Homo sapiens: one gene and its partner. The protein of the gene in region 2 purifies or fractionates together with the protein of the main gene of each other region. This does not show direct contact. Each region holds a gene or a part of one and is shown on either strand. Other genes may lie near its edges. The genes, in order: KATNIP and MAK.

Region 1 (10,890 bases), on a different chromosome or scaffold from region 2:
TAACTTTCCTCTCCCCAAAGGACATGTTAAATCAGAGGGTCCACTGCTAAGGGTGGTCAAGGTAGCAGTGGGCTCTGAAGTGAAGTGGGAGCTGGGAGAGAAAGTGACTTCACTAGGAAACGAAATTGGGCCAGGACAGGAATGCTAATGGGAGAGCAGAGGAAGCAGCTGCGGGGAACAGGAAAGGAAGCTAGGAGCGGGAATAGTATGAGGACTGGGTTGTCTGGGGAAACCATATGTGTCCACTAGAGAAAAAGGACCAGGCCAGGCAAAGTGGCCCACGCCTGTAATCCCAACACTTTGGGAGGCCGATGCAGGTGGATTATCTAAGATCAGGAGTTCAAGACCGGCCTGACCAATATGGTGAAACCCCGTCCCTACTGAAAAAAAAAAAAAAATACAAAAATTAGACAGGCATGGTGGTGGGCGCCTGTAGTCCCAGCTACTTGGGAGGCTAAGACAGGAGAATTGTTTGAACCCAGGAGGCGGAGGTTGCAGTGAGCCAAGATCACACCACTGCACTCCAGCCTGGGTGACACAGCGAGACTCTGTCTTGAAAAAAAAGAAAAAAAAAAGACAAAAAGGATGCAGCCACGGTCCCTGGAAGCTTGGCCTGGAAGCTTGGCTACAAGGCCCTTTCCTTTGTCTACTTTATGGAGAATGTCCAGCAATTCACTAGGGAACAAATCCGTTAATCTCTTTCCTGGTTACAGTGTCAACCCAGCAAACACTCATGGGATCTGCCTGTGCCAGTCCTTGTGCCAGGTGCTGGGCATACAAAGGAAAGAAGTGAGTCTCTACCCTCAAAGAGGGAGAAAAGCATAGAGCTCGTCCCTGTGATACAACACAATGCCTGACTAGCTATGGGGTCCTGCCATGGGGGAGTAGCTAATTCTGCAGGTGGTGCTGGTCACTGCAATTTACAGTGTGGAAGTGACTTGAAAGAAGGGCACAGCTGGCAGGGAACACAGCACAGGCAAGGCAGCGAGGTGCGAAAGAAGACGGTGTACTCCAGAGATGGCCAACCTCCCCAAGTGTCTCGGGCTGGCATTGAAATCTCAGATGCCTGCAAAGGAGGCCAATATGATCAATGGAAGAAGTGAGCACCAGATGACAGGTAACACCAGCCAGAAGGGGTCATCAGCACATGTCCCAGGTCAAGGGGGTGGCCACTGTTCAGTGCTAGAGGACCAGAGCTACGTGACAAGAAAGTGCTGAGGGCCCAAAGCACCCTGTTTATCAAGAGACTGAGAAGTCCAGGTTCTTATGTGAAATTACCTTTTTTTTTTTTTTTTTTTTTTCTGAGACAGAGTCTCACTCTATAGCCCAGGCTGGACTGCAGTGGCGCGATCTCAGCTCACTGCAACCTCTGCCTCCCAGGTTCAAGCGATTCTCCTGCCTCAGCCTCCTGAATAGCTGGGATTACAGGCACCCGCCACCACGCCCGGCTAATTTTTGTATTTTTAGTGGAGACGGGGTTTCACCATGTTGGCCAGGCTAGTCTTGAACTCCTGACCTCGTGATCTGCCCGCCTCAGTCTCCCAAAGTGTTGGGATTGCAGGCGTGAGCCACCACACCTGGATTTTTTATTTATTTATTTTTTTTATACAGAGTCTCGCTCTGTCGCCCAGGCTGGTGTGCAGTGGCGCGATCTAGGCTCACTGCAACCTTTGCCTCCTGGATTCAAATGATTCTCCCACCTCAGTCTCCCAGGAAGCTGGGATTATAGGCAGGTGCCACCATGCCTGGCTAATTTCTGTATTTTTACTAGAGACGGGGTTTCACCATGTTGGCCAGGCTGTTCTCAAACTTCTGACCTCAAGTGATCCGCCTGCCTCGGCCTCCCAAAGTGCTGAGATTATAGGTATGAGCCACCATGACCTTACTATTTTTTTTTTTTTTTTGAGACAGGGTCTTGCTCTGTTGCCCAGGCTAGAGTGCAGTGGCATGATCACAGCTCACTGTAGTCTCAACCTCCTGGGCTAAGGTGATCCCACCTCAGCCTCCCGAGTAGCTGAAACCACAGGCATGTGTCAACATGCCCAAATAATTTTTAACAATTTTTTGTAGAGGTGGGGTCTCACCGTGTTGCCCAGGCTGATCTCAAACTCCTGGGCTCAACTGATCCTCCTGCCTCAGCCTCCCAAAGTGCTAGGACTACAGGCATGAGCCACCATGCCTGGCCTGAAATCACTATTTTTGAATATGGAAAAACATATTGATAGACACTGTACAGCGCAGTGTAAAACCTCTGGGTGTGAGAGCAGGTAGGCAAGTGTCTAAAAAGATGAGACTGGAGGGGAGCTAATTCCCCAGAGAAATTCTATACTTCAAGGTGATATGATCCATAGGGCAATTGTTAAAGCTGCAAAGCCCCATGGGACATCAGTAGTCACACTTTCTTACTTTTACATAAAGTGCTCTGCAAACAGTTTCAAGTTCTTCCTTGCAACCAACCACATTGCTCTGCATTAGCCTACTCCCATTTGGAAAGAGAGAAGCAGTCATGGGACCAGATGCTGAGGGAGCTGGGAATGTAGTCAAAACGGGTACCTTTCAAAATGTATATTATTCCATCAGCCCAGTGGCCAGTTCTTCCCCACAGACTCACTCTCCAGGTGTGAGAACCTGGCCACACACTGGCAGTAACAAGGCTGAAATGGGCCTTCCATAACATACTACCAAGTGTAGACCTTATTCGACTGAGTCCTGGCTCTGCTACCTACTAGGTGTGTGGTATAAAACAGACACAATCACAGTATCCCATTGAGCTGTCTCAGGAATCAAATCAGATCTGCCACGGCAACAGTCAGCAAACGTTTCCTGTACAGGCCCAGATAGTAAATATTTTTGGCCCGTGGGCCACATAAGTCTCTTTTACAACTACTCAACTCTGCAAGAAAACAGCCATGGACTATATGTATGTGAAAGGGTGCTGCTGCATTCCAATAAAACTTTATTTACAATAGCAGGCAGTGGGCCACACTGCTTTGGGAAAGGGGAAGACCTCTACAAATATTATCTTCTAAGGACTCCCATGTTGAAATGTAGTCATCTGTTTATGTCTGCTTTCTCACCATACTATGAAGTTTCTAAAGGCAGATAATATATTCCCTTTTTTTCAGATTAAAACAAAAAGAAACTGGGCATGGTGACTCATGCCTGTAATCCCAGCATTTTGGGAGGCCAAGGCAGGCAGATCACTTGAGGTCAGGAGTTCGAAACCAGCCTGGCCAACATATGAAACCCCATCCCTACTAAAAATACAAAAATTAGCCAGGTGTGGTGGCACACACCTGTAATCCCAGCTACTTAGGAGGCTGAGGCAGGAGAATCACTGGAACCCAGGAGGCAGAGGCTGTAGTGAGCTGAGATCGCACCACTGCACTCCAGCCTGGGTGAGAGAACAAGACTCTATCTAAAAACAAAAAAACAAACAAAAAGAATAAGTATAGTCCAGTATGGCATACAAGGAAGTCCACAGGAGTTTTCACAACTGTACAAGTTAATACTAAAGTAGAATTCTAAGTACAAATGCTGACAGGCCTAGGAGTGACAGACACAATGAGAGAAGCCAGTCATTAGACAGGCCCACCTCCCTCTTAAAGGGCAAAGTCTCCACTTAACTCGGGTGGTGGGACAATTGTTGCCATGCAGAATTCTGATTTGGTGTTAACAGACTTTATTGATATTTTCAAGAAAATACCACAATCAGGTATTTATAAGAAATCTGCTCATTTTTCAATGTTGACAACTAATTCAAAAATTTAAAAAACAAAACATTATGAGCCAAATAAACATGCATGTGGGCTGTTTCAGCCCACTTGTGCAAGCTCTGATATAAAGAATTCATTTCCAGCCAGGCATAGTGGCTCATGCCTGTAATCTTAGCAACTTGGGAGGCCAAGGTGGGAGGATCACTTGAGCTCAGGAGATGGAGACCAGCCTGGACAACATAGCAAGACCCCCATCTCCACAAAAAATAAAAAATTAGCTGGGCATGGTGGCACACACCTGTAGTCCCAGCTACTTGGACAGCTGACATGGGACGATCGCTTGAGCCAGGAGATGGACGCACCAGTGAGTTATCTCACCATTGCACTCCAGCCTGGGCAACAGAGCAAGACTCTGTCTCAAAAAAAAAAAAAAAAAAATCCACACCTGTAACCGTAGCACTTTAGGAGGCCAAGGGGTAGGGTTGGATCACCTAAGGTCAGGAGTTCGAGACCAGCCTGGGCAACATGGTGAAACCCCGTCTGTACTAAAAATGCAAAAATTAGTTGGGCGTGGTGGCATGTGCCTGTAATCCCAGCTACCCAGGAGGCTGAGGCAGCAGAATCACTGGAACTCGGGAGGCGGAGGATGCAGTAAGCCAAGATCGCGCCACTGTACTCCAGCCTGGGCTACAAAGTGAGACTCCACCTCAAAAAAAAAAAAAAAAATCAACTTCACAGAAAAATGTCAAGAATAGTACAATGAATTCCCATATCGCCTTCACCTGGATTCAATCTTACTCATTTTGGCATCTCTGAATTCCAATGCACGGAAGGCACTGAAATGTTGAATCATGGAATGAATCTCATAAGGAAAAATAAGCAAAACATTATGGGCCGACTTCCTATAAGTTAAAGTGACAGGAGGAACGAACTCTGAAAAAATCTGAGAGAAAAGAAACTAATCAGATAGAAGGATTGGAACAAGAAGAAAACAGAACAGACACAAAGAGTCTATGGGATGTATGTTTATTTCACCTGCTGAATGCTTGCTTTGTTTTATTGCATTTGATTGTTATTTTATTATTTTTTTTGCTGGGTTTAAGTAGTAAGAGAAACAGACAAATCACCAAGAAGCCAGGTAAATACCACACAAGGACAGGAGAGACCAGCTAAACCGATGGTGTACTCTCAGCAAAACCTTCCTAATTCAACCATCACCTGTTTGCAGTCTGGGATTATTTGGACAAGTGAGGCTAAATATCATCTTGGCATTATTAATTATTTGAGAAAGTTTGCTAAGCAAATGAACAGTATAAACAAGGGAAATGTTGAATATTTGCTCTAGGGGAGCAGTGAAAAGCAAATGAACAACTTCCAAATCCTTTCTAATTATATCAATGTGCTGAACTTTTGTCTAATTATTATGTTCCTTGAAAATGAAATAGAATTTTTTTTCCTAAACCATTTCATATTTTTAAAGTACTGGGGAAAATTCAACTTTAACAGAAAGGCGAACATTTTCATAGGCAGAAAACACACACTGCCAATGTACCTTCATGGAATAAAAAATGTCAAACATTGGATTTTCTCTTAAGCAAAGAGTGTGCTAATTACAAAAGTTATCATCTGCTAGAGAGCTTCATCAGCACGCTTCCCTCTTCTGTCAACTGTGTGGAATAAGTCTGCCTATTTGCAGATAATGATAACAACAGCTACTATATAGGAACTTTTTTTTTTTTTTTGAGACAGAGTCTCACTCACTGGCCCAGGCTAGAGTGCGGTGGTGCAATCTCAGCTCACTGCAACCTCCGCCTCCCAGGTTCAAGCAATTCTCTGCCTCAGCCTCCCGAGTATCTGGGATTACAGGCACCCGCCACCACACCTGGCTAATTTTTGTATTTTTAGTAGAGACAGGATTTCACCATCTTGGCCAGGCTGGTCTTGAACTCCTGACCTCGTGATCCACCCATCTCAGCCTCCCAAAGTCAGGCATGAGCCACCGCGCCTGGCTGTAGGAACTTTTTTTTTTTTTGAGACGGAGTTTCGCTCTTGTTGCCCAGGCTGGAGTGCAATGGCGCAATCTCGGCTCACCACAACCTCTGCCTCCCAGATTCAAGCGATTCTCCTGCCTCAGCCCCCCAAGTGGCTGGGATTACAGGCATGCACCATCACACCCAGCTAATTTTGCATTTTTTTAGTAGAGACAGGGTTTCTCCATGTTGGTCAGGCTGGTCTCGAACTTCTGATCTCAGGTGATCTGCCTGCCTCGGCCTTCCAAAGTACTGGGATTACAGGCGTGAGCCACCGCGCCCAGCCAGGAACATTTTTTTATATGCCAGACTTGATGCATTGTTTCATTGAAGCCACAAAACAAGGTAGGCTTCATTATCATGTCCATTTTACTGACAGGAAAACCAAGGCTCAGAGAGGTCAAAGTGTACAGCAGAGATTCAAATCCAGGGCTATCTGGCCCCCAAACCTAAGGACATTACACTGCATCACAGAAACAGATAGGACCTGCCCAAAGTCAAAATCAAAAGGCCAGGGAAAGGGTTGTGAAAAGCTATGGTGATTAAGACATGCCGAATAAACTAAATTACAGTCCAGTTTGGAGGGCATCTGCTAGACATTTAAGCTTTTGTGAACGTAGGAAGTAAACATCTTTCTAATAAGGCCAGGCTTGGCTTACCTAGTTAGTTAGAATCACAATAAGGTATGCTTCACTTTATCCAATAAATAGGTATGTGCCTATAAAATTATGTATAAATCAGGGCCAGGTGCGGTGGCTCATGGCTATAATCCCAGCACTTTGGGAGGCTGAGGCAGGTGGATAACCTGAGGTCAGGAGTTCGAGACCAGCCTGACCAACATGGTGAAACCCCATCTCTACTAACAAAAAACAAAAAAGTTAGCCAGGCGTGGTGGCGTGCACCTGTAATCCCAGCTACTCAGGAGGCTGAGGCAAGAGAATCGCTTGAACCTGGGAGGCAGAGGTTGCAGTGAGCCAAGATCACGCCACTGTACTACAGCCTGGGTGACAGGGCGAGACTCTGTCTCAAAAAAAAAAAAAAAAAAAAAAGTGTAAATCAAAGTTTAAAAAATCAGAACAGAAAATGGGATTCTTTGGAGGTCAAATATGACCCTAGGGTAAACACTTCTGAGAATAAATTTTTCCTTTTGGGGGCCAATCTGAAAATGAACATACCCCTCTACTAGGCTACAATAACGTCCTAAGACTGCAAGTACAGAGATGCTCATTAGAAGGCACAAAGCAGCCTTCCTGAAAATGGACTGTAGCAATGTTTCTCAAAGGTGCAGATCCTGGGAGAAGGAGGGGTCCACAAAGACAAAAGTATTTTAATCATAATTTGAAGAGTATTTCACTGTGTTGAATTTTTTTTCTTTTGAGACAGTCTCACTCTGTTGCCCAGGCTGCAATACAGTGGCATGATCTTGGCTCACTGCAACCTCTGCCTCCTGGGTTCAAGCGATTCTCTTGCCTCAGCCTCCCCCAAGTAGCTGGGACCACAGTTATGTGCCACCATGCCCAGCTAATTTTTGTATTTTTAGTAGAGACAGGGTTTCACCATGTTGGCCAGGCTAGTCTCAAACTCCCGACCTCAGGTGATCGCCCACCTTGGCCTCTCAAAGTGCTGGGATTACAGGCGTGAGCCACCCCATCTGGCTGTGTTGACATTTGTACTTATGACACAAAGCAATGGTGGGTAAAACTGCTTGCAGTCTGAATCAAGGCAATGTTACCACAATGTACTAGAAACCTTCCCTCCTTCCTTCCTCCCTCCCTTCTTCCATCCCTCCCTTCTTTCCTCCTTCCTTTCTCTCTCCTCTCCCTCCCTTCTTTCCTTCCTTCCTTTCTCTCTCCTCTCTCCCCCCACCCCACCCCCTGCTCTCTCTCTCTCTAGACAAGGTCTTTTTGCCCAGGCTGGAGTGCAGTGGCACAGTCATGGCTCACTGTAGCCTCAACCTCCTAAGCTCAACTGATCCTGAGTGGCTGGGACTACAGGCACGAGCCACTATACCTGTCTAATTTTTTACTTTTTACAGAGATGGGGTCTCACTAAGTTGCCCAGGCTGGTCTTGACCTCCTGGGCTCAAGTGATCCCCACACCTCAGTCTCCTTAGCAGCTAGAACCACAGGTGCATGCTACCATGCCTGACTATTATTTATTTATTTATTTATTTTATTTATTTATTTAGTAGAGATGGAGTCTCACTATGTTGACGAAGCTGGTCTTGAATTTCTGGGCTGAAGAGATCCTCTTGTCTTGGCCTCCCAAAGCGGTGGGACTATAGGCGTGAGCCACTGAACCCAACCATCAGGACATTCTTAAATAAAAATAATTGTTTGTTTGTTTTAAATGTGAGTACATGGCAGTAAATAAAATAATAGACAAATTTTGGTTATTCAGTCTTGGGAATTTGGCAGAAATTTTCTCAAATATGAAATAAGTGAGTCTGTCACTTCAAGGAAACAGCTGACAATATTTGCTGCCAATGTTAAAATTCAAGCTGTCAAGTGAAAACAAGTTGAAAACTTGTTTCCATTACCTTGAGTTTGATAGTTTCCTAATACTTAAACTCCTTTTTAAAATGAAATAGGTGGTGATATTAACAAATGTGATTTTTTAAATACCGTATAATGGCATCTGAAAGGTCAACGTTTAGATTTGCATAACTCACTGAACCAACATTTTCTAAACGACCAATGGCTGATGTTATAAAACCATATATGGGTAAAGCAGCCAATGAAAGGGCAAGATAGACCAATGGATTTTAATGTAACACAGTATAAAAGTTCACCTATAAGGCTTCAGATGACACACTGTGACTAACATTTAAGAAACTGCCACTTGTGGCCTGGCATGGTTCTTCATGCCTGTAATCCCAGCACTTTGGGAGGCCAAGGCGGGCGGATCACCTGAGGTTGGCAGTTTGAGACCAGCCTGACCAACATAGAGAAACCCCATCTCTACTAAAAGTACAAAATTAGCTGAGCGTGGTGGCACATGCCTGTAATCCCAGCTACTTGGGAGGCTGAGGCAGGAGAATCGCTTGAACCCGGGAGGCGGAGGTTGCGGTGAGCCGAGATCAGGCCATTGCACTCCAGCCTGGGCAACGACGGCAAAACTCCCGTCTCAAAAAAAAAAAAAAAAAAAAAAAACTGCCACTTGCAGGCCAGGCATGGTGGCTCACGTCTGTAATCCCAGCACTTTGGGAAATGGAGGCAGGCTGATCACCTGAGGTCAGGAGTTTGCGACCAGCTGGCCAACATGGGGAAACCCCATGTCTACTAAAAATAAAAAAAATTAGCTGGGCATGGTGGTTCACACCTGTGATCCCAGCTACTCGGGAGGTTGAGGCAGGAGAATCGCTTGAACCCAGCAGGCAGAGGTTGCAGTGAGCTGAGATCGTGCCACTGCACTCCAGCCTGGGCGACAGTGAGACTTTTTCTCAAAAAAAAAAAAAAAAAGAAAAAAGAAACTGGCATTTGCTAAATTTTGTATAGTATGAAAGGAGAGTGTCTACAGTTATCTGAAAAGGCAATTAAAATGTTTCTCTCTGCTCCAATTATATATTTGTATGAGGCCAAATTTTCTTCATACACACCAGCCAAAACAGCATAACAAAAAACAGTTTGAATCCTGAAGCAGAAATGAGAGTAGTTTTTTCTATTTCTATTGAATAAACTTGAAAAAACATAAAATAATGCTACTCTTCCTATTAATTTTTTGGAGGCAAATGTAATTGTTTTCCATTAAAAATATTATTTATGTTCAGAAGTAATGGGTTTATTGTTGTTGGAGTTTTTTTGAGACAGGGTCTAGCTATGTTGCCCAGGCTGGTCTTGAACTCCTGAGCTCAAGCAATCCACCCACTTCAGCCTCCCAAACTGCTGGGATCACAGGTGTGAGGCACTGCACATGGCCAATTATTATTATGATTATTATGAGCCACTGCACCTGGCCAATTATTATTATTATTATTGGGTTTTTTTGAGACAGAGTCTCGCCCTGTTGCCCAGGCTGGAGTGCAGTGGCAAGATCTCGGCTTCAAATGATTCTCCTGCCTCAGCCTTCCAAGTAGCTGGGATTACAGACATGTGTCACCACGTCCGGCTAAGTTTTAGTAGAGACAAGGTTTCACCATGTTGGCCAGGCTGGTCTCGAACTCCTGACCTCAAGTGATCCACCTGCCTTGGCCTTCCAGAGTGCTAGGATTACAGGCACGAGTCCATGCCCGGCCCAATTTTTATTATTTTTAAAGGAACTAATTAATGGACATCTTAAGATTTTCCCAGTTTAAATCTTCGATATGGTAAATATCATAAATATAAATAAACAAAGCTCTTTGAGGTAAGAGCATACAGGGGTCCCAAGGCTTAAAAGGTTTGAGGACTGATGTTCTATAGCAACATTACATTGACCTTTCCAGAAGGCAAAATGGTAAAGCACATTTTATAGTACCTCTAAAGTACAAAGGGAAAAGATATATTTTAAGCATATGACAGAATGTTCAATTAAAAACATTTTCTCCACACTACATTCAGTGAATATAAAAAGAATGTGGATTCCCCAGGAACAAATTCCCGAGAAGTGAGGGACAGTGCTGTAATTAGAAAAATGATCTGGACTCTAGCCCAGACCCTACCAGTCTCTCTAGACTTTAGTCTTCCCATCTGCAAAGTGAGATATCAGAATAGCCTATTTTCCATTTGCTTCCAATTGTCAATACCATGACTCTAATCAGGGATCCCTAAATGGGGGCCCACAAGCTGTCTCTGGCCTTCAGAGTGACTGGCCAACCCTGTTTTTGAGAAGTACCCCAAGAGGACAATCAGCTGGTGCTTGGTGAGCAGCTTTCCTTTCAGGTGAGGAATTGATTTTCAGTTACAGCCTCAATCCGGCTCACTAGACTCTCCTCTGCAGACATCTGCATTTACAACCTCTGGAATAAAGGGACCCTCAAAACCGGTCCAAATCTCAAGCTCCATAATTCAGCTCCAGAGACAGGGTGTCTGGGTTTCTCACTCACTCTGCTACATGCTGGTTGTTTGACTTTGGGCAAGTTCCTTAACACCTCTGAGCCTCAGTTTCATCATCTGTAAAATGGAACAACGCTGAACTCAAAAGGCTGGTATGAAGCTTAGCGAGGT
Region 2 (10,890 bases):
GGCATGATCTCAGCTCACTGCAACCTCCGCCTCCCAGGTTCAAGTGATTCTTCTGCCTCAGCCTCCTGAGTAGCTGGGACTACAGGCGCACACCACCATGCCCGGCTAATTTTGGTATTTTTAGTATAGACGGGGTTTCATCATATTGGCCAGGCTGGTCTCAAACTCCTGACCTCATGATCCACCTACCTCGGCCTCCCAAAGTGCTGGGATTATAGGCGTGAGCCACCACGCCTGGCCCCCACTGGGCTTTCTGCCTCATTTTCTTTGGTTTCCCTTTTAGCTTCATAACCATTTATTTTATAGATTGAATTGCTAATATAAACATTATAATTATTGGGATTTTGCAACGACACAGCTATTGAGGAAAACTGAACATTAGATAAAATAATTTTAAATGAAGAAATTAGTTCTGATGTGTGGAGTTCCATTTTTATTGAATGGACTTTTTAAACAAGTGATTTTTCTCAAGAAGTCAGCTGCACTGACTCAAGCCTGATTAAAAAGTGCTCTTCTCAGCCTGGGTGACGTGGCAAAACCCTGTCTCTATCAAAAATACCAAAAATTAGGTGGGAGTGGTGGCATGCACCTGTGGTCCCAGCTACTTAGTGGGCCGAGAGGATTGCTTGAGCCGAGATCGAGCCACTACGCTCTGGCCTGGACAACAGAGCAAGACCTATCTTAAAAACAAAAACACTTCTCACACGTTAATTAGGTGACTTCACTCTGGCCCTCAACCTCCTCCTCTATTGCACAATAGTGATAACAGTACCTCCTTCAGGTTGTTGTGCAAATGAATGGAGATAATCATAGTGTGGTAATACCTAGCCCAGTGCCTGAACACCCACTGGAGTCACAAATAAAAATAAATGTTAAATGGGTGGTTATTTTTAATTATCTCATACACTGTGTGAACTTTCTTGCCAAAGCATTTTAAAAGCAGGGTCCCTACGCCCCATTTACTTCTTAGACAATAAATATGGTTTACTTTTTTCCTAAGATGATGTTTTGAATTATAAAAGAGGGGGTTCATTTATATTTTGTTTATAAATCAAATAAAGCTATGTTTAAACGTAATGATTTACTGTATTTTTTTTTCTCCGTATATCATCAAGGCTTTTTTCATAGGGACATGAAACCAGAAAACTTGCTTTGTATGGGTCCAGAGCTTGTGAAAATTGCTGATTTTGGACTTGCAAGAGAATTAAGGTCACAGCCACCATACACTGATTATGTATCTACCAGATGGTGAGTAGGGGTTATGCAGCCCTCCTGAGGCATAAGCCTATGGTGAAATTTTCCTACGATGGATTGTTACATATTTCTGGAAGTTCCATATTGAATATTTAAAACACAGAATTGAATTTTATATTCTTTAAAGAAAGCGAAGGATTGGTTTATTGCTATTCTGATCACTGAAAAAAAAAGGAAAAAGAATTTCATTTATTCACTCATTCATTCATTCAACAAATATTTATTGAACACCTACTATGTGCCAAACATCATTTTAGGCACAGAGAACACAGCAGTGAAATAAAAAAAGAAAAGAAAAATCTCTGCCTTATGCTGCTTACATGACAGCCAATAGACAGATAAACAAGTTAAAAATATTATGGATCACCAACAGAAAGACATACACGTGTTCACCAGAAGACATGAATCCTCTCTACTGCACGCCACCCAAACGTCCATGAACAGTAGCATCGTATACTCACCCAGTGGAATGCTTTGCAACAATGAGAACGAAGGGTCTATGACTGCATGCAGCAATGTGGACGAATCTTAGACAATGTTGAGATCAAGAGCCCAAAGAGAAAAAGAGCACATACCATATGATTTCATTTATGCAAAGTACAAAAAAAGAGAAAACTAATCTGTGCCATGAAAGTCAGGATAGCAAGCAGTTCTATGGGGTGGGGATGTGTGTAGTGCCTGGACTAGTGCACAAGGGGCCTTCTGGGTGCTGATAGCATGTCTTTCTTTTTTTTTTGAGATGGAGTTTCGCTCTCTCGCCCAGGCTGGAGTGCAATGGCGTGATCTCGGCTCACTGCAACCTCTGCCTCCCGGTTTCAAGTGATTCTCCTGCCTCAGCCTCCCGAGTAGCTGGGATTACAGGCACCCATCACCATGCCCAGCTAATTTTTGTATTTTTAGTAGAGACGTGGTTTCACCGTGTTAGCCAGGCTGGTCTCAAATTCCTGACCTCCGGTGATCCTCCCACCTTGGCCTCCTATGCATAGTGCTGGGATTACAGGCGTGAGCCACCGGGCCCGGCCGATAACATGTCTTTCTTGATCTGGGTGCTGGGTCTGTGGATGTGTTGTATTTGTGAAAATTCATCAAGCTCTACTCTTACAACACATGCCTCTGCCTGTGTGAATATTATACTCCAGTGAAAACAAGAACATATGTGTATCAGGCTGGGCATGGTGGCTCACGCCTGTAATCCCAGCACTTTGGGAGGCCGAGGTGGGGGATCACTTGAGACCAGGAGTTCGAGACCAGCCTGGCCAACATGGCTAAACCCCGTTTCTACTAAAAATACAAAATTAGCCGGGTGTGGTGTCACGCGCCTTGGTGCCAGTTACTTGGGAGGCTGAGGCATGAGAATCACTTGAACCTTGGGGGCAGAGGTTGCAGTGAGCCGAGATTGCGCCACTGAACTCCAGCCTGGGCAACAGAGCAAGACTCTTTCTCAAAAAAAAAAAAAAAAAAAAAAAAGGAATATATGTGTATCAGATGTTGATACATTATTATAAAGAAAAATAAAATAGGAAAGGGGGCAGGGAGTTGGGGGAGATGGGGAGAGAAAGGAATGTTACATGGAGGGTCTGACTGAGAGTAGCCCTGATGGAGATGCCAGGGCCAGCAGGATTTTTTTTAGGCAGAGTAAAAGCCTTGAGACAGGTGCACGCCACACGTGAATTCTGCACAGTGCAGAATGAATAAGGAGGGCAGTCGTAGGAAACAAGGGCAGAGTTTGTAGAGTGGCCAGAAATGATAGTGACTTGGACCTGCTGGCCATGCAGGTAGTGAGAAATGTGGGATTCTAATGAATCAGATGTGGGGGCTGAAAGAAAGGAGTCCGTGTCTTAGTGTGTTTTTTTGTGTTGCTGTAAAGGAACACCTGCGGCTGGGAAGTTGGTAAAGAAAGGAGGTTTATTTGGCTTCCAGTTCTGCAGGCTGTACAAGAAGCATGGCACTGGCATCCGCTTGGCTTCTGATGTGGGTTTTTATGCTGCATCAAAACATGGTGGAGAAGGTCAGGCCGGGCGTGGTGGCTCACACCTGAATCCCAGCACTGTGGGAGGCCAGGACGGGTGGATCACCTGAGGTCAGGAGTTCGAGACCAGCCTGGCCAACGTGGTGAAACCCAGTCTCTACTAAAAATACAAAAATTAGGCCGGGCACAGTGGCTCACGCCTGTAATCCCAGCACTTTGGGAATCCGAGGCAGGTGGATCACGAGGTCAGGAAATCAAGACCATTTTGGCTAACACAGTGAAACCCCGTCTCTACTAAATATACAAAAAAAAAAAAAAAAAAAAAAAAATTAGACGGGTGTGGTGGCGGGCACCTGTAGTCCCAGCTAGTCCCAGCTACTTGGGAGGCTGAGGCAGGAGAATGGCGTTAACCTGGGAGGCGGAGCTTGCAGTGAGCGAAGATCGCGCCACTGCACTCCAGCCTGGGTGACAGAGCAAGACTCTGTCTCAAAAACAAAAAAAATTAGCCAGGCATGGTGGCACATACTTGTAACTTGGGAGGCTGAGGCAGGAGAATCACTTGAACCCGGGAGGTGGAGGTTGCAGTGACCCGAGATCGCGCCATTGCACTCCAGCCTGGGCAACAAGAGCAAAACTCCGTCTCAAAAAAAAAAAAAAGAAAAGATGGCGGGGTGAAGGTCAAAGGGGAAATGGGCACGTGCGAGAAGGGAACAAACAAGAGGAGGAAGCTTGCCGTGGAGCAACCCACTCTCTCAGGAACTAATTTCATCTTGCCTGAAAAAGAACTCATTCACTACGTGAGAACAGCACCAGGCCTTTCATGAGGGATCCGCCCTGGTTACCTGCGAATGTGACCTTATTTTGAAATAGGGTCTTTGCAAATGTAATCAGATTAAGATGAGGTCAGACCACAGCCTGGCTGGTCTTAATCCAGTAAGACTGATGTCCTTATAAAAAGAAGGCAGACAGAGAGATGGAAGAGGGAAGACACGTGAAGGCACCTTGGGAGAAAGCAGTGTGATGTACACTTTAAATGGATCAACTGTATATTATGTGAATTATATATCAATAAAGCTTGTAAAAATATTCGTCAAAGTATAGTAAGTTCTCACTTAACATCATCAGTAGGTTCTTGGAAAGTTTCACTTTAAGTGAAACAACATATGATGAAACCAATTCGACCATAGGCTAATTAAAGTAAACAATTTTATGGCACGTTTCTGGTCACAAAAACATCACCAAACTTCTTTTTTTTTTTTTTTTCCTGTCACCCAGGCTGTAGTGCAGTGGCACGATCTCGGCTCACTGCAACCTCTGCCTCCCGGATTCAAGTGATTCTCCTGCCTCAGCCTCTCGAGTAGCTGAGCTTACAGACGCCCACCACTACACCCAGCTAAGTTTTTGTATTTTTAGTAGAGACGGGGTTTCACCATGTTGGCCAGGCCGGTCTCGAACTCCTGACCTCATGATTCACCCGCCTTGGTCTCCCAAAGTGCTGCAATTACAGGTGTGAGCCACTGTGCCTGGCCACCAAACTTCTAAATAGTGACCAAAACACTAATATTGAACATTGAAATACATGTAAGCTATACATACATTTGAGAAACATTAATAAAAACAAGGAAGATAATTATTCGCCAAGTTATTCTAGTTCAGGGTCACAGGTGGCAACAGCGTGTCCTGGAAGCTGGGGGTGCAAGGTGAGCACCAACCATGGACGGGACAGCCTCCCATGGCAGCACGCCCCCTCCCCACCCCCCCCCCGACACACACATGCACACACTCATCCTGGGGCCACACAGGCACCCCAGTTCACCTGACATGCACATATCTAGGATATGGGAGGAAGCTGGAGTCCTGGAGAAAACTTGTAGACTTGGGGAGAATGTGCAAACCCCACACATTGGCCCAGCCAGAAATGCCTTTCTTTTTTTTTCTTTCTCATCAACATTACAATGAAACAACATTGAGCAAAAACAACAGTGAACAAAACTAGTTTATTTGAGGGCTTGCAGTATTCTCAATGAAAGCAAAAAGACAGTATGCCAAACATTTGGACTGAAATATTTACACATTTTGGTTGGAAAAAAAGAGAATTGAGAGTGTCTTCCATTTAGCAGACTTTGTGTTGGACTCACCAGCTCACTTTGCTCTTGTAAATTGAGTATTTTTCTCAATTAAAAATATTGTTAGGCTGGGTGCAGTGGCTCATGCCTGTAATCTCAGCACTTCGGGAGGCTAAGGCAGGCTGATCACCTGAGGTCAGGAGTTCGAGACCAGCCTGGCCAACATGGGGAAACCCCGTCTCTACTAAAAATACAAAAATTAGCTGGGCATGGTGGTGTGCCCCTGTAATCCCCGCTGCTCGGGAGGCTGAGGCAGGATAATCACTTGAACCCAAGAGGCGGAGGTTGCAGTGAGCCGGGACCGCGCCATTGCACTCCAGCCTGGGCAACAAGAGCAAAACTCCACTCAATAAATATAGTTGACTACAGAAGAGGAGTCAGTTGAGGATATCAGTACTTTCAAACTGATAAAAAAAAACTCCACTACTCAGGATATAATCCTGTTCATCTTTTGTTTTCTGTGCTTCCTTGTGAATAGATGCTGAATATAATGCTTTGTAACATAGTTTTTCTACTTTTTTTCTTAATATATCAGATGGCACTTATTTCCATATCTATTCAGTTGAGTTCCTGTCTTAGGCTTGATGGACATTTCATAGACATTTGTCTCCAGCCCCACTCATTGTCTGTGATCAGGGAACATGTGTTGTGTCCTATTATCCCCAGAACATTGTACAAATGCCTGACACACAGATGGAACAGGGTCTGAATACCTGTTCCTTGATGGAAATGCATGACCACACAGCGTAGAATGCTACTGCCCATCCACCTTTGAAATTGCAATCAAAATTACCTCTTTTGTTCTCTATTTTCATAGGTATCGTGCCCCTGAAGTTTTACTGAGATCTTCAGTTTATAGTTCTCCCATTGATGTGTGGGCTGTTGGAAGTATCATGGCTGAACTCTATATGTTAAGGCCACTTTTCCCAGGGACAAGTGAGGTCGATGAAATCTTTAAAATTTGCCAAGTTTTAGGGACTCCCAAAAAAGTAAGTACTCTTGTCCCTAAGTTGCTATAACTTTTGATTATTTCTATCTTGCTACTTTGCTTTTAATTTTATAATTTTGATTATTTACAACTTTTGCCTAGATATCTGATATTTTCATTTTGAAATAGGCTCATACTTTAATGATTAATTTTCTTATAATTCTTTTTTTTTTTTTGAGATGGAGTCTTGCTCTGTTGCCCAGGTTGGAGTGCAGTGGCTCAATCTCAGCTCACTGCAACCTCCACCTCCCAGGTTTAAGCAATTCTCATGCCTCAGCCTCCCAAGTAGCTGGGATTACAGGTGTGCACCACCACGCCTGGTCAATTTTTCTATTGTTAGTAGAGAGGAGATTTCACCATGTTGGCCAGGCTGGTCTTGAACTCTTGAGCTCAAGCGATCTGCGATCTGCCCACCTCAGCCTCCCAAAGTGCTGGGATTACTTGGTGTGAGCCACCACGCCCGGCTGTAATCCTTATTTTTTTAATCGGAGTGGGTTAAGGATTGCAAGAAGCCAGAATCCCACCAGCTGAAGAAAAACAGGTGCTTGCCTTTCCTTAAGAACTTCAGGAAAAATTCTGTGTGTTTAGAGTGTAACTTGGGGGTGATGCCCAGCTGACACTGTACAGACAGCCTTGCTTGAGCTCTTTCCTGCTCATTCTGTGGCTGGCCATTGGCATCACCTGTTAACCCCTGGTGTCTTGAACCTTGTTTTTTCTTAACCGTTTCTTGTTTCCTTTTTTATATCTCCCCTGTGGATATTTGACTTCTTGAACTGAGTGCTTTTCAATTAACTATATTTCATCTACACCTTTCTTTCTGAAATGTGCTTTATAAGTGTGTATATAATGACATCCTAATTAAATTAGTAAGTGCCTTGTAGTTAACATTACACAAGTAAATGTAGATATTAAAGCTTTAATGTAATTGTCATTTCCCAGATATGTGCATTTTTAACATTGTATGCAATGGGTAATATACACGACAAGGATCTTTGTTCACAGTCAGCCTCTTTGTAAAGCACTTTTCCTTATTTGTTCAGAGTTAACCCAGGTATCATCACAGCAACATCACCATCAGGATCTAAAACCAGACAAGAGCTTAATATTGCAAAATTTATAAAGGCGGGCATGGTGGCTCATGCCTGTAGTCCCAGCACTTTGGGAAGCCCAGGCAGGAGGATCACTTGAGCCCAGGAGTTCAAGACCAGCCTGGGCAACATAGTGAAACCCCGTCTCCACAAAAAAAAATTAGCCAGGTGTGATGGTGCGCACCTGTAGTCCCAGCTACTCAGGAGTCTGAGGTAGGAGGATCTTTTGAGCCCGGGAGGGTGAGGCTGTAGTGAGCCATGATTGCTCCACTGCACTCCAACCTGGATAACAGAGCCAGATCCTGTCTCAAAAAAAACACAAAAAAACAAACAAAAAAAAGCTATAAAAGTGCTTTTCGCATTGTTTCCTAACTCTCAGCTTAATGTTCTTTCTATACTGTCGTAGCACTAAATTATAGACGTGGTCTGGTATTTCATTTTCATGTTTATATGGATCAACATGAAAATGTTCAAACATAAATGATGTTTATATTACTGCTGTGTTTTTTAAATGGATTACTAAAAACAATTTGTTTTGCCCTCCCCACCTGCACTTATATATTCCTGAAACAGAGTGACTGGCCAGAAGGATACCAGCTGGCATCCTCTATGAACTTCCGTTTTCCCCAGTGTGTTCCTATAAACTTAAAAACTCTTATTCCCAATGCCAGTAATGAAGCTATTCAGCTCATGACCGAAATGTTGAATTGGGATCCAAAGAAACGACCGACAGCAAGCCAGGTAAGAGGAGTCTTCCTGTTAGACCTTTAAAAATGTTTAGGTTTTGTAATATCAGGGATGTTTTCATTTACAAAGGCAGGTCTATTCTCAACCAGGATTTTACTAAGAGAATTAAACACAAAGTCCTAGGCATCCAGCGTATGTAATAAATTAATTTCTAGGCATATAATATCATTGGGAGAAATGCAGAAATAGCCACACCAATGATTTTCTGAGTTTTGTGGTTCAAATGAAGAACCCTGAGGTTGCAACAAGGAATCAATCTGCAATGATAAAAATTCAGACCTGCGACAGACTAGTTATGAAGGAATCTGTCATGGAAGCAAAAAGGCATCTCATGAATCATTCCACATAGTAGACTTTCCTATGCTGCCTTTACAGTTTAGGGGTGGGATTCTGGTTCACTTTATACAACAGTATCATCCCTTGCTGGGACTGGAGTGTGCAGCCTCTGGCTGCCACAAGAGGGCAGCATTGTGGCACCCAGGCTTTGTTCCTTTGTGACTACACCTGACATATCTACAGATGTATTCCAAGTCTAGGGCCTTTAAACCCAGTGTTTTTGTCTGCAAGGCTTCAATAAAAAGGCAATAATAAACTTTATTGTATTCTCATCATTTAAATATAAATTCCATGTGAAAATTACAAAAATTTATTTTGCTTTTTTTAAAATTAATCTTGAGAAAATGTTTTCTAAATGTCATCTGGAAGAACAAATGGGAAAGGATAGTCAAGATATGTTAAAACAAGAATAAGGAATTAGAGAGCGGTGATAGGGATGGACAGCTTGCCCCATCAGATATTAAAGTAATCTTTAAATTGATGATGGTAACAGTGGAAGTACTGGCATAAGAATTGACAAATAGCTGAATGTTGCAGAACATATGAGTCAGCACAAGGTAAACAAACGTGGCATCACAAAGAGGGGAGGACGGCTCAGTGGGTGATACTGGGAAAATTCATTAGCTCTTAGGGAAAAAAATAAATTGAGGTCCTTACTGCTCACCATACTTTACAACTCACAGAAGGGTTACATTTTGTTGTTGTTGTTGAGATGGAGTTTCACTCTTGTTGCCCAGGCTGGAGTGCAATGGCATGATCTCGGCTCACCGCAACCTCTGCCTCCTGGGTTCAAGTGATTCTCCCACCCTCAGCCTCCCGAGTAGCTGAGATTACAGGCATGAGCCACCACGCCTGGCTAATTTTGTATTTTTAGTAGAGACAGGGTTTCTCCATGTTGGTGAGGCTGGTCTCGACCTCCCAACCTCAGGTGATCTGCCCTCCTTGGCCTCCCAAAGTGCTGGGATTACAGGTGTGAGCCACCGCGCCCGACCAGGATTACATTTTCAAAGTGTAAAAAAAAAAGCACCCTAAACTGTTAGAAACAAAAGGAAAGCATACATGTGTATTTGATCTCAAGGTGAAAAAACACGGGTATAAAAATAATAGAAGAAACCACAAAAGGAAGATTCAAACAATTTGATTACATAAAAAGTAAAATTTTTCTCTATGTAAAAATCTTAAAATGGAAAGATAAGACAGAGAAAATTATTTTTAATTCTTAATATAATACTCCTACAGAAACACAAGAAAAATACTGAAATGTGTATGTGTATTTTCTTTTTTTTTTGAGATGGAGTTTCTGTTGCCCAGGCTGGAGTGTAGTGGCATGATCTCCACTCACTGCAACCTCCGCCTCCTGGGTTCAGGCGATTCTCCTGCCTCAGCCTCCCGAGTTGCTGGGATTGCAGGTGCCCGCCACCACGCTTGGCTTATTTTTGTATTTTTGTAGAGACCAGAGGGGTTTTTTTGTTTAGTTTTTTTTTGTTTTTGTTTTTGTTTTTGAAACGGAGTCTCGCTCCATCGCCCAGGCTGGAGTGCAGTAGCGTGATCTCGGTTCACTACACCCTCCGCCTCCCAGATACAAGCAATTCTTCTGTCTCAGCCTCCCTAGTAGCTGGGACTACAGGTGCCTGCCACCACACCTGGCTAATTTTTGTATTTTTAGTAGAGATGGGGTTTCACCTTGTTGGTCAGGCTGATCTTGAACTCCTGACCTTAGGTGATCCACCCACCTCGGCCTCCCTAAGTTCTGGGATTACAGGAATGTGCCACTGTGCCTGGCCAGAGACGGAGTTTTACCATGTTGGCCAGGCTGCTGTTGATCTCCTGACCTCAGGTGATCTGCCTGCCTTGGCCTCCCAAAGTGCTGGGATTACAGGCATGAACCACTGTGCCCAGCCGTTTAAGTGTATTTTCTAATTTTTCTTTTTTAAAATTTTTTGAAAGTTTTGTTTCTTTAAAGATGGGGTCTTACTATGTTGTCCTGACTGGTCTCAAACCCCTGGTCTCGTGCAGTTCTCCTGCCTTGGCCTCCCAAAGTGCTGAAATAATATAGGCGTGAGCCACCACACCTGGCCCATATTTTCTAATTTTTCTAAACATTCATTACCTTCATAATAAAGACATAATAAGTTTTTCAAATGTATTTTAAAAAGAAAAGTAGTAATGGGACATGAAAAAGAAACACAGGAAAAGAAATACAGATTACAAAAAATATTTTTTAAATGTTCAGTCTTTGTTTACTATTATAAAATGCAAGTAGAAATGAGATACCGTTTTTCATTTATCTCTCTTAGTAAGAGAAAGTAATTTTGTAGTATATAAAAAGAGCCTTGAAGACAATCAGAAATTATGCTCAAAGATGTTCAATTCCAATAGAAA

The links.
Region 1: the proteins of MAK (region 2) and KATNIP purify together in Homo sapiens (affinity purification with mass spectrometry; 3 studies listed by BioGRID and IntAct, with this or other methods). This does not show direct contact.

The regions. Positions count from the first base shown.
Region 1 is NC_000016.10:27,550,695-27,561,584, reverse strand, and holds part of KATNIP (katanin-interacting protein), read right to left. Parts: intron 7,972-10,890; exon of another isoform or gene 7,952-7,971; intron 1-7,951. UniProt on the Homo sapiens protein: May influence the stability of microtubules (MT), possibly through interaction with the MT-severing katanin complex.
Region 2 is NC_000006.12:10,799,168-10,810,057, reverse strand, and holds part of MAK (serine/threonine-protein kinase MAK), read left to right. Parts: intron 1-1,115; coding exon 1,116-1,248; intron 1,249-6,166; coding exon 6,167-6,338; intron 6,339-7,998; coding exon 7,999-8,166; intron 8,167-10,890. UniProt on the Homo sapiens protein: Essential for the regulation of ciliary length and required for the long-term survival of photoreceptors. Phosphorylates FZR1 in a cell cycle-dependent manner. Plays a role in the transcriptional coactivation of AR.